2 separate regions of the Homo sapiens genome follow, and region 1 is linked to region 2. Evidence: fine-mapped expression QTL. A gene starts in region 2. The other region holds a variant in brackets. All regions are shown on one strand. Distances are from middle to middle.

Region 1 (5,364 bases), 120 kb after region 2:
GTTTGAGACCAGCCTGAGACCAACAAGGTAAAACCCCGTTGCTACTAAAAATAGAACACCTATATGGACACCTATAATCCCAACTACTCGGGAGGCTGAGACAGGAGAATTGCTTGAACCCGGGAAGCGGAGGTTGCAGTGAGCTGAGATCACGCCACTGCACTCTAGCCTGAGCGATAGAGCAAGACTCCATCTCAAAAAAAAAAAAAAAAAAAAGATAAGTAACTAAGTGGAAATTACTCATTTCAGTCTCACCCCTACCTCACCAAATACTTTTTGTCATTTCTACATCTCCTTTTAAGCCAAATATTAAAACCTTTTTAATGGAAATTATTTACTATGCCACCCTCATGGGAATTGCTTTAGTCTACTATTTGCAGAAGGACTATATACTGTAGTACCCTCAGGGTGGAATATCGGACACAGAGTCTCAATTACCGTAGCATTTGGCTTAGTTATTATCCTCATACCAGGAATAACAGTTGCTAACAAACAAATAACACATGGGTCTTCCCAAACATGCGCCTCTGCCTGTCATTGGGAAAAAAATGTTGATTCTGTCTCAACCAATTAGGCCTAATAAGAAACGCTGCTGAAGGCCAGGCGCAGTGGCTCACGCCTGTAATTCCAACACTTTGGGAGGCCGAGGCAGACGGATCACGAGATCAGGAGATCAAGACCATCCTGGCTAAGACAGTGAAGCCCCGTCTCTGCTAAAAATACAAAAAATTAGCCGGGCGTGGTGGCGCGTGCCTGTAGTCCCAGCTACTTGGGAGGCTGGGGCAGGAGAATGGCATGAACCTGGGAGGTGGAGCTTGCAATGAGCTGAGATCGCGCCACTGCACACCAGCCTAGGCGACAGAGCGAGACTCCGTCTCAAAAGAAAAAAAAAAAAAAAAACGCTGCTGAAAAGCCTAGGACTAATGTTTTTACCCTTTATGGCCATTTCGTAGACAACTACCAAAACATCTACACACAATATTGCTCCTGCAGGCAATCCAAGACCAAAAAACTCTCCGTGTCTCCCCTCCACCCCACAACAGCAGGAAGTAGCCAGAAAGAACACGTCGCCCCTTGTCCTTTTACAACTATAGGGTCTGGAATGACAGAGCAGAAGCACTGTCATCTTGGACAAACCCCACCACTTTAAGTTCCAGCTCCCTCTCTAGCCTCTTACATTTCAAGGATATCACTTATCTTCTAACTACAAGCAGCCAGAAAGAGCAGGCAGTAAAACACAGATAAGACAGCTCGGGCACAGAGGGAAATAGGGGGAAAGTCTGTTGGGTAATTGCCAAACTTCACCCTCATACAATGGGCCCCAGTAAAACAGTGGGGCCTTACTTAATAAGCACATTCCTTTCCCTTCAGGTGCACTGAAACAGGGAAGCCAAAGGCAGACTCCCGGTGGGGGTTTTTGGGGGGCGGGTATGCCTGCAGCTGCAAGAAGATGTATGGGGACAGACACGCAACTCTCCCTCCCAGATAAGCACAACAAAGAGACACAGAAGCAGTCCAAGCCTCTGATAAACTCTCCCACCCTGAATCCTTAAAACTCTTAGTCTGGGCTGAGCTCGGTGGCTCATGCCTGTAATCCCAGTATTTTGGGAGACTGAGGTGGGCAGATCACGAGGTTCGAGACCAGCCTGGCCAACATGGTGAAACCCCGTCTCTACTAAAAAATACAAAAATTAGCCGGGCATGGTGGCACATGCCTGTAATCCCAGCTACTCAGGAGGCTGAGGCAGGAGAATAGCTTGAACCTGGGAGGCAGAGGTCGCAGTGAGCCGAGATCACGTCATTGCACTCCAGCCTGGGCAACAAGAGCGAAACTCTGTCTCAAAACAAAAACAAGAAACAAACAAACAACCCAAAAACAAAAAAACCTCTTAGTCTGTAAGAGAGTTTGCCTCTGACTCAACTTGCCTGGAATACTCCTCTCAGGTTTGTTTTCTCTAAAATAAACCTGTGTTGACTGGCAAGCCAACTTTTGTGTTTCTTTCCTCTTTATTTCTTACAGGCCTCCCAACATGCTGGGATTACAGGCGTGAGCCACTGCACCTGGCCTAACTGAAACTTAAAACACATTTTCCCGGCCGGGCTCAGTGGCTCACGCCTGTAATCCCAGCACTTTGGGAGGCTGAGGCGGGCAGATCACGAGATCAAGAGTCCAAGACCAGCCTGGCCAACATGGTGAAACCCCATCTCTACTTAAAATACAAAAATTAGCCAGGCATGGTGGCGCATGCCTGTAGTCCCACCTACTAGGGAGGCTGAGGCAGGAGGATGGCTTGAACCCAGGAGGTGGAGGTTGCAGTGAGCCAAGATCATGCCGCTGCACTCCAGCCTGGGCAACAGAGTGAGATTCTGTCTCAAAAAAAACAAAAACAAACAACAACAACAACAAAAAAAAAAA[AC/C]ACACAGACACATTTTCCCTTTAGCATTGCTTCTAAAATTCAAAAATGAGCTGTCCTAGGGAAAGGGAACAAGGACTGCCCTAGGACATGTTGAAGAATGTGGAAAATGTTTCATATTTAAAATGTTGATTCATTGATTGATTGAGACAGGGTCTCACTCTGTTACCCAGGGTGGAGTGCAGTGGTGTGATCATGGCTCACTGCAGTCTCAAACTCCTGGGGTCCAGTGATCCCTCTCACTTCAACCTCCCAAGTAGCTGGGATTACAGGTGTGCACCATCATGCCCAGCTAACTTTGTCATTTTTTTGTAGAGACAGGGATCTCGCTATGTTGCCCAGGCTGGTCTTGAACTCCTGAGCTAAAGCAATTCTCCTGCCTCAGCCTCCCAAAATGCTGGGATTACAGGTGTGAGTCATTGCACCTGGCAGGGAAGCATTTCAAAGTCAGCTACATCTTGACTTTGACTATTCAGAATATTTAAAAATGAATAAGTAGTAAGAAATAAAGAACAAAGGTACCATGAAACAAAGATTGGGCCCTTGGGTCTTTATAGGAATAACTTTTTCGGGGGGCAGGGATGGGGGTAGGCTCTGTCGTCCAGACTGGAGTGCAGTGGCCCGATCATAGCTCACTACAGCCTGGGAATCCCGGGCTCCTGGGCTCAAGTGATCTTCCTACCACAGCCTCCCAAAGTGCTGGGATTCCAGATATGAGCCACCAGCCTGGCCTTTTAAAACAATTATTTGGGCTGGGCATGGTGGCTCACGCCTGTAATCCCAGCACTTTGGGAGGCCAAGGCAGGCGGATTACTTGAGGTCAGGAGTTGGAGACCAGCCTGGCCAACATGGTGAGACTCTGTCTCCACTAAAAATACCAAAAAACTAGCTGGGTGTGGTAGTGCATGTCTGTAATTCCAGCTACTTGGGAGGCCGAGGCAGGAGAATCACTTGAACTCACGAGGCAGAGGTTGCAGTGAGCCAAGATCAAGCCACTGTACTCCAGCCTGGACAACAGAGAGAGAGTCCGTCTGAAAATAAATAAATTAAATAAATAAATAAATTGGAGAGAACACGAGTCACTTTGTCTGCTTCTCCACCTCCCTAACAAAGCTCTCTATGGTATAAAGCTTGAAGGAATGTGGTCCACCCAAGCCCTGACTCTGAAACCTTTTTCCATTGAGTTCTCCCATCTCCTAGGAGATGCTTGCCACGGCCAGCAGCTCTGCCGGGTTACAAAGCTCATGCCAGGAAAGGCAAATGCCAGGCCGACTGCCCGGCAGCTCTCCAGGGCTGACTCGGGGCTGCAGAGAAGAGGCTGGTATGAGTCTCTCGTGGCTGCTGAAACAAATGACCAGAAACAGAGCAGCTTAAAGCAACCCAGATTTATGATTTTACAGCACTGGAGGTCAGATGTCCTAAAATTAAGGTGTTGATGAGGCTGGTTCCTCCTGGAGGCTCCATTTTCAGCCTTTCCCAGCTTCTAGAGGTACCTACAGCTCTCATCTTGGGGCCCCTTCCTCCACCTTCACGGCCAGCAGCGCAGCCTCTTCCAGTCTCTTTCTGACTGTGACCCTCCTGCCTCCTCATTTTTTTTTTTCTGAGACAGAGTCTCACTCTATAGCCAAGGGTGGAGTGCAGTGGCTCCATCTCATCTCACTGCAACCTCTGCCCCTCGAGTTCAAGCAATTCTCCTGCCTCAGCCTCCTGAGTAGCTGGGATTACAGGCATGCTCCACCACGCCCAGCTAATTTTGATTTTTTAGTAGCAACAGGGTTTCTTCATGTTGGGCAGGCTGGTCTCGAACTCCCAACCTCAGGTGATCTGCCCGCCTCAGCCTCCCAAAGTGCTGGGATTACAGGCGTGAGCCACCAAGACCAGCATTTTTTTTTTTTTTTTTTTTTTGAGACAGGGTCTTGCTCTGTAGCCAAGGCTGGAGTGCAATGGCTCAATCTCAGCTCACTGCAACCTCTGCCCCCACTGAGTTGAAGCAATTCTCCTGCCTCAGCCTCTCAAGTAGAACTGGGACTACTGGCATGTGTCACCACGCCCGGCTAATTTTTGTATTTTTAGTAGAGTCAGGGTTTCACCTTGTTTGCCAGGCTGGTCTCAAACTCCTGGCATCAAGGGATCCATCCGCCTCGGCCTCCCAAAGTGCTGGGATTATAGGCATGAGCCACTGCACCCGGCCCCAGCTAATTTTTTTTTTTTTTTTTTTGAGACGGAGTCTTTCTCTGTCGCCAGTCTGGAGTGCAGTGGTGCGATCTCGGTTCACTGCAACTTCCACCTCCCGGGTTCAAGCAATTCTCCTCGCTCAGCCTCCAGAGTAGCTGAGATTACAGGCACGTGCCAACACGCCCAGCTAATTTTTGTATTTTTAGTAGAGACAGGGTTTCACCATCTTGGCCAGGATGGTCTCGATCTCTTGACCTTGTGATCCGCTCGCCTTGGCCTCCCAAAGTGCTGGGATTACAGGCGTGAGCCACCGCGCCCAGCCCCAGCTAATTTTTTTATTTTTTTTTGTAGAGACTGTGTCTTGCTATGTTGTCCAGGCTGGTCTCTAACTCCTAGGCTCAAGTGATCCTCCCTCCTCGGCGTCCCAAAATGTTGGGATTACAGGTGTAAGCCACCATATCTGGCCAAAGGGGCTTTATTTTACCTACCACAGCATCCGTGGGGGCCAAAATCATAAGATGGGGGGCCCACAGGACACTTCCTGAGGGAGGTGATGTGTGGGTTTAGTTCTGGAAGATTGCAGGGCTGGTGGGGGATTGTGCTATGCGGGAAGAGGATTCCAGGCTGAGAGAACAGAGTCCATAGAACAGCAGGATCCTAAATATCTACCCCAGACGCCACCTGGAAGCTCTGTTTGGGAAAGTACAGTTCTCATCTGGGGTCGATTTTTCCCCAGGGGACACCTGGCCCGTGCCTGGAGAGAGATTTGGCTGTC
Region 2 (5,364 bases):
ATCTCCTGACCTCGTGATATGCCCAACTCGGCCTCCCAAAGCGTTGGGATTACAGGCGTGAGCCACCATGCCCAGCCTAAATGTCCCTTCTTAACAGTGTGATGTAATAAGGGTACAGTGGGGGGTGACACTGTCTGTGATACCACATCAATAACTGGCAATAACATAACAGACCAGGGTGGCACCATGGGAAGTCTGAAACTACAGCACGCGGTGTGGACAGTAGCTTGGGTTGGGGGCTGTGAACAACCAATGCCCACTATCTGCCGTTTTCGAGCACTTCAGTTGCGGTGACTTCCAACAGCTCCACATCCTGGTCTTGCCACACCCTCCGGCTTCCTTCTCCCCTCTCTTCTGGAGGGCAGGTAGGGAGACTTCTAGGACTGAGTCGCTCCCTGGCCCACAGTTCTTCCAGGAAAGCCCTCCTCCAGACTTAGCCATGGCAACAGTGGCTGTGCAGTGTCCCTGGGATGGGACAATCTCTCCCCACCTTTTGCACCTATGCTGGGCTGCTTCTAGGGCACCCGGTGCTTGTCCCCGTGCCCATGTAAGATTCATTTGTTGCAGAACAAATCTGGGTGGACCTTGGCAGAGGAGCCTGGAAAGAGGTGTCCAAGGTGGCCGGGGAAACTGGTTTGTCCACAATAGCCCCTGGGCCCACCCTCCAACAGGAACCCCACCCCCCTGTCTCTGCTGGGCCACCTCCATCCTGGGGTTCCCTCCCCAGTCCACCCTCCCCATGCCCCAGCACCCCACCTGACCCTTCTCACAGGGTCCACGGGCCCCTCCCTTGGCCAGGATGACTGGATCTTGTCCCTGAAGTCGGCGTCTGTCCCATGCTCCCCGAGCCCAGCCCTGGGGCCCTCAATGCTCCCCGGACACAGTCTAAGACCTGGAAGTGGAGCCTTGGGAGAACCTCCCCTTTCTGTGAGTCCACCGTGTCTCCCCTCAGAGGTGGGGGGGGAGCCTGCTGAGGGCTCCTCGGTGCTTCTAGCCTCTTCTTATGTTTCCTGCTTTCCTCTTGCTCCCTCCCCTTCTCCTCTCTCCTAAAGTTCCAACCTCACTCCATCCAGGCATGTTTGTTCTAAGTTCTCTCCTTCTCCAGGCCTTTGCCTGTTCTGTTTCCTCCAGCAAACTCCTATGCAACTGTCAAAACCTACTTCAAAAATCCCCTTCTGGGCCAGACTCGGTGGCTCACGCCTGTAATCTCAGCACTTTGGGAGGCCGAGGCAGGTGGATCACGATGTTAGGAGTTCGAGACCAGCCTGGCCAACATGGTGAATCCCCGTCTCTACTAAAGATACAAAAAATTTACCGGGCATGATGGCACAAGCCCGTAATCCCAGCTACTCGGAAGGCTGAAGCAGGAGAATTGCTTGAACCTGGGAGGTGGAGGTTGTAGTGAGCCAAGATCGTGCCATTGCACTCCAGCCTGGGTGACAGGGCAAGACTTTGTCTCAAAAAACAAACAAAACAAAACATAAACAAAATCCTCTCCCTCCCTGCAAATTGTGAGTTTACCCTATTGAACTCCCAAAGCTGACTTGCTGAATATACTCCCACCATAGCACTTCCGGAATGGAGACAGGGTCTCCAATTTTTGGAGATAGGGTCTTGCTCAGTTGCCCAGGCTGGAGTGCAGTGGCACAATCATAACTCACTGCAGCCTCAACCTCCTAGGCTGAAGCAGTCCTCCTGCCTCAGCCTCCTGAGTAGCTGGGACTATAGATGCATGCCACCAGGCCTGGCTAATTCTTTTTAATTTTTTTTTTTTTTTTTTTTTTAGAGATGGGGTCTCACTATGTTACCCAGGTTAGTCTCGAACTCCTGGTTTCAAGCCCACTGGGCTTACTTATTTATTAGATTCCGGAAGTACTGTGGTGGGGGGATATTCAGCACAATCAGCTTTGGGAGTTCAATAGAGTAAACTCACAATTTGCGGATAGGGAGGGAATTTTTGAACTGGACTTTGACAGATGCGTAGGAGTTTGCTGGATGGAGTAACAGCTTCAGGCCCAACGCACAGCTTCTGACAGATCCCCATGTTAAGGGTCTATTCTCAAAGGTATGAAGGTAGTGGAAAAGCCTAGAAATTTTTGTTTGGAGTACTGACAACAGATAGGGAGCCAAAATTCTTGTCTGGTCCCTTTGGTAGGTGGACAAACAGGTTCAAAGAGATTTGAAAGTTTACACCGTTTGAATTGTTAACCTCTTCATTTTGAGAACCAGATGAAAAACCTGGGCCCTTCTCCCTGGGAAATACAGCTTTGCCCAATGTTTTGTCAACATATTTAGGGGCCCCTGATCTCAGCCTAGTTAAGAATCCAGGCTCCAAGAGCCAGGTGAGTTTCCAACGTCACTCTCGCAATTCTCCTTGCTCGAGGGAGGGGGTGGCGGCTTGGGAGGCCCTGAGAGGGCCGCCCAGGTGAGTCCCGGGACTTCTCTGCCCAGGCTGTCGTCCAGGCCCTCCAAAAGTCAGAGCCCCACCTCCACCTTAGTCTCGATCCGAAAACGCGGCCCCGGCAGCCCCTACTAGGCGCCCCCAGCCCGCCCTCACATCCCTCCAGTCCATCGGAGTTTTTCACTCGGAGCCCCGGACCCTCCCCCGAGCCGCAGCCTCTCTCCCCGCCCCGGATCGGAGCCCCCCGTCCCCGCCCCGGGAGCTAAGAGGTGCAAACGCGCCCTCCTCCAACTCCTCCCGCCCCCAACTCCCCCCCGAGTGGCAGCTCTGGGCTGGGAACGCGGCGGGGTCGGCCTCTCGGCTTTGCGTTCCCGCCCCGGGTCCCCGGCGCCGCAGGAGCCCGCCCTGCAGCGCTGAGTCCCGCGCGTCCGCCTGCCGTGCCCGCCTCCACGCGCGCCGCCTCGCAGGTAGGTGAAGGCGCGGGGCCAGCGGCGGGGCGAGATCGCGGGCGCTGAAGGGTGGAGAAGGCGGGGGCGGGGGGGCCGGCAGGGGGAGGGGGAGAGGATTCCTTTGTTCGCAGCCGGGCAGCCCCGGGCCCAGCCCCCTCCCCTCTCCGCCTTCTAGTGGCGCCCGCCGCAGTGGGGAGTGGGGGCGCGGGGACCCGGCGGGAGGGGCTCGGCCGGGGCGCGGGGCCCCTGACCCCACAGGTGAGGGCGGAGCCAAGCGTGGTCGCGGCCGGGGGCCCTGCCGGGTGGAGATCGCGCCCCGCGGGCTCCGGGGGCGCCCCCTCCCCGTCGGCGAAGCTTGGTATCCCTCGCTGTTTGGCCCTCAGCCTCCACACCCCGTGCCGGGCGCGCCTTCTCTGCTCATTCATTCCACAAACTCCAGGGTGTGGCTCGCAGAAGCAGCGGTGTGTAGGGGGGACCGAGGCAAATCAGGCCAGAGACTCCCCCCACCTAATTCCCCCACCCGACCCGAGGCAGGGGGCTGGGGCGGAGGGAGTGGGGGAGGAGGGCTTGCAAGCCCCGAGGCTGCTTGGAGTCCACGGAGCCTCAGAGTGCGGACTGACCCGGACAACTGAGAAGAAAAAGAGGGCGCCCCTCTCCAGCCAGCCAACCCTCCAACGTTGACAGGGGTCTCTCCCTTCTCCGGGGCCTTTGGACAACCAGGTTGGCCCAGAGAGGGGCGTGGCCAAGACCACACAGCAGGGCTCCCCGCCCATTCTCCACCTAGGGCCGGTTCCTTTCCTCCCTGGAACCTGAATGGAACAGGAAGGCCACTTGGTCTGGCTTCTCTCCCTCAAGTATTTTGCCTCCACCCTCCAAACGGTCGTCTCCTGTCCCGGTCTTCTCCCTCCCGTCCTTCATGGCCCAGGAAAGACCCAGCCAAGGGGGGCAGGAGCGAGTTCCGTTCCTGATCTTCTTCCCCTCCTTCTTCTCTTCGTGGGCTTAAGCTCCGGCTTAGCCCCTCACTCATGGTGTGATGGCCTTAGTTTGTGCATCTGTGAAATGGGCACAGAAGCGGTCCCTTCCCTGCTGGGCACAGGGTTACTCTCTGCATTGGGAAGTTCCAGCCCCTGCCTGGGCCCCCTGCCCAGGGAGGCATCCAGCCCTGACCTGGGAGCAGTGAACAGTCAGAGGAGGCTTCCTGGAGGAGGTGTGATGTTAGAAAAGGGTCTTGCGGCTAAGGGTGCACAGCCCAGGCAAGACCGGCGTGGGATGTGGAGGCGAGGGGACACAGGGCCAGGTGGGGCCAGGCATTGCAGGAGTGGGGGTATCTGTGTCACAGAGGGACAGTGGGGTTGTTGCCTTCCACGACTTACCATCTTCCTCCTACCCTGGACGCTCTCTGGGCTCCACCGTCCCAGCTAGAACTTTGGGAATCTCCTCAATGCCCTCCACCTCCCACGACATGAGCCTCCCATTCCTCTCCTCTCTCTCCCATCTGGACAGCCCCCAGCCTTCTGACACCCTGTTTCCCCCCCGGGACCCTGCTGCCCTTCCCCACACCACCTAACATGCATTTCTGACCTTGCTCCTCCCACTCAAAGCTTTTCAAGGGCTCTTCATTGTCCTTGACGAATGAGCAAAAGCTGCATGACACTGCTATGCCCACTCCTGCAACGCCTGGCCCCACCTGGCCCCACCTGGCCCTCTCTCCCCTCCCTTCCACTTCCCACTCCCGTCTTGCCTTGGCTGTGCACCCTCAGCCCCAAGACCCTTCTCTAACATCACACCTCCTCCAGGAAGCCTCCTCTGACTGTTCACCGCTTCCCGGTTGGGGCTGGATGCCTCCTTGGGCTCCCAGAGGCCCCGGGGCTGCCCCATTTGGCAACCACCCTGCCCTCCTCGTTGTGTTGGGTCCCCCATGGCTAGGGTGGGGGGCTCATCTAGGGCTGACTCTGCTTCCTCTCCGCAGCCTCCAGGGGACACGCCATGACTCTGGAGGGTCTGTATTTGGCAAGGGGCCCCCTGGCCCGGCTCCTGCTGGCCTGGTCGGCCCTGTTGTGCATGGCAGGTGGCCAAGGCCGCTGGGACGGGGCCTTGGAGGCTGCAGGTCCTGGACGTGTGCGGAGGCGGGGCAGCCCAGGCATCTTGCAGGGGTGCGTGGTACCTGGGATGCTGGGAGACCCCTTCGGTGTGGATTGGGCTGTCCTGGGGCCAGCGGAATACCCGGGGGGATGTCCACACGGGCAGGGGCTCACCAGACCCATCTCGCTGTCCCCGAAGGCCGAATGTGTGCGGCTCCCGGTTCCATGCCTACTGCTGTCCAGGCTGGAGGACATTCCCTGGCAGGAGCCAGTGTGTCGTACGTGAGTGCTACCGCCGTCTGGAGGTGGGGGGGCACAGGCCGGGGACACTCTTACCTGCCTGCAGGTTCAGCTCTGTTTACACGGGGACTTAGCCAGGGACCTCTGGCTGAACCACAGGAATGGCCCTTGCATCTGCGTCTGTCCTCAGGGT

Evidence for each region. PIP is the estimated chance that this variant, and not a neighbour inherited with it, causes the effect. A credible set is the group of variants that fine-mapping cannot tell apart.
Region 1: its variant is the best candidate, but not a certain one, in a credible set for the expression of FBN3 in skeletal muscle (FUSION, PIP 0.62).

What each region holds. Positions count from the first base shown.
Region 1 is chr19:8,029,434-8,034,797 of GRCh38, reverse strand. No RefSeq gene overlaps it. Among named protein-coding and RNA genes, the nearest start is that of CCL25, 21 kb to the left of the region's middle. RefSeq lists an enhancer at 4,654-5,364. The variant AC/C (reference allele first, on the strand shown) is at 2,417.
Region 2 is chr19:8,146,953-8,152,316 of GRCh38, reverse strand. FBN3 (fibrillin 3) reads left to right here and starts at 2,725. Exons shown (of 64, transcript NM_032447.5): 1 at 2,725-2,868; 2 at 4,820-5,003; 3 at 5,131-5,213. The coding sequence starts at 4,837. RefSeq lists enhancers at 3,568-4,538, 4,539-5,364.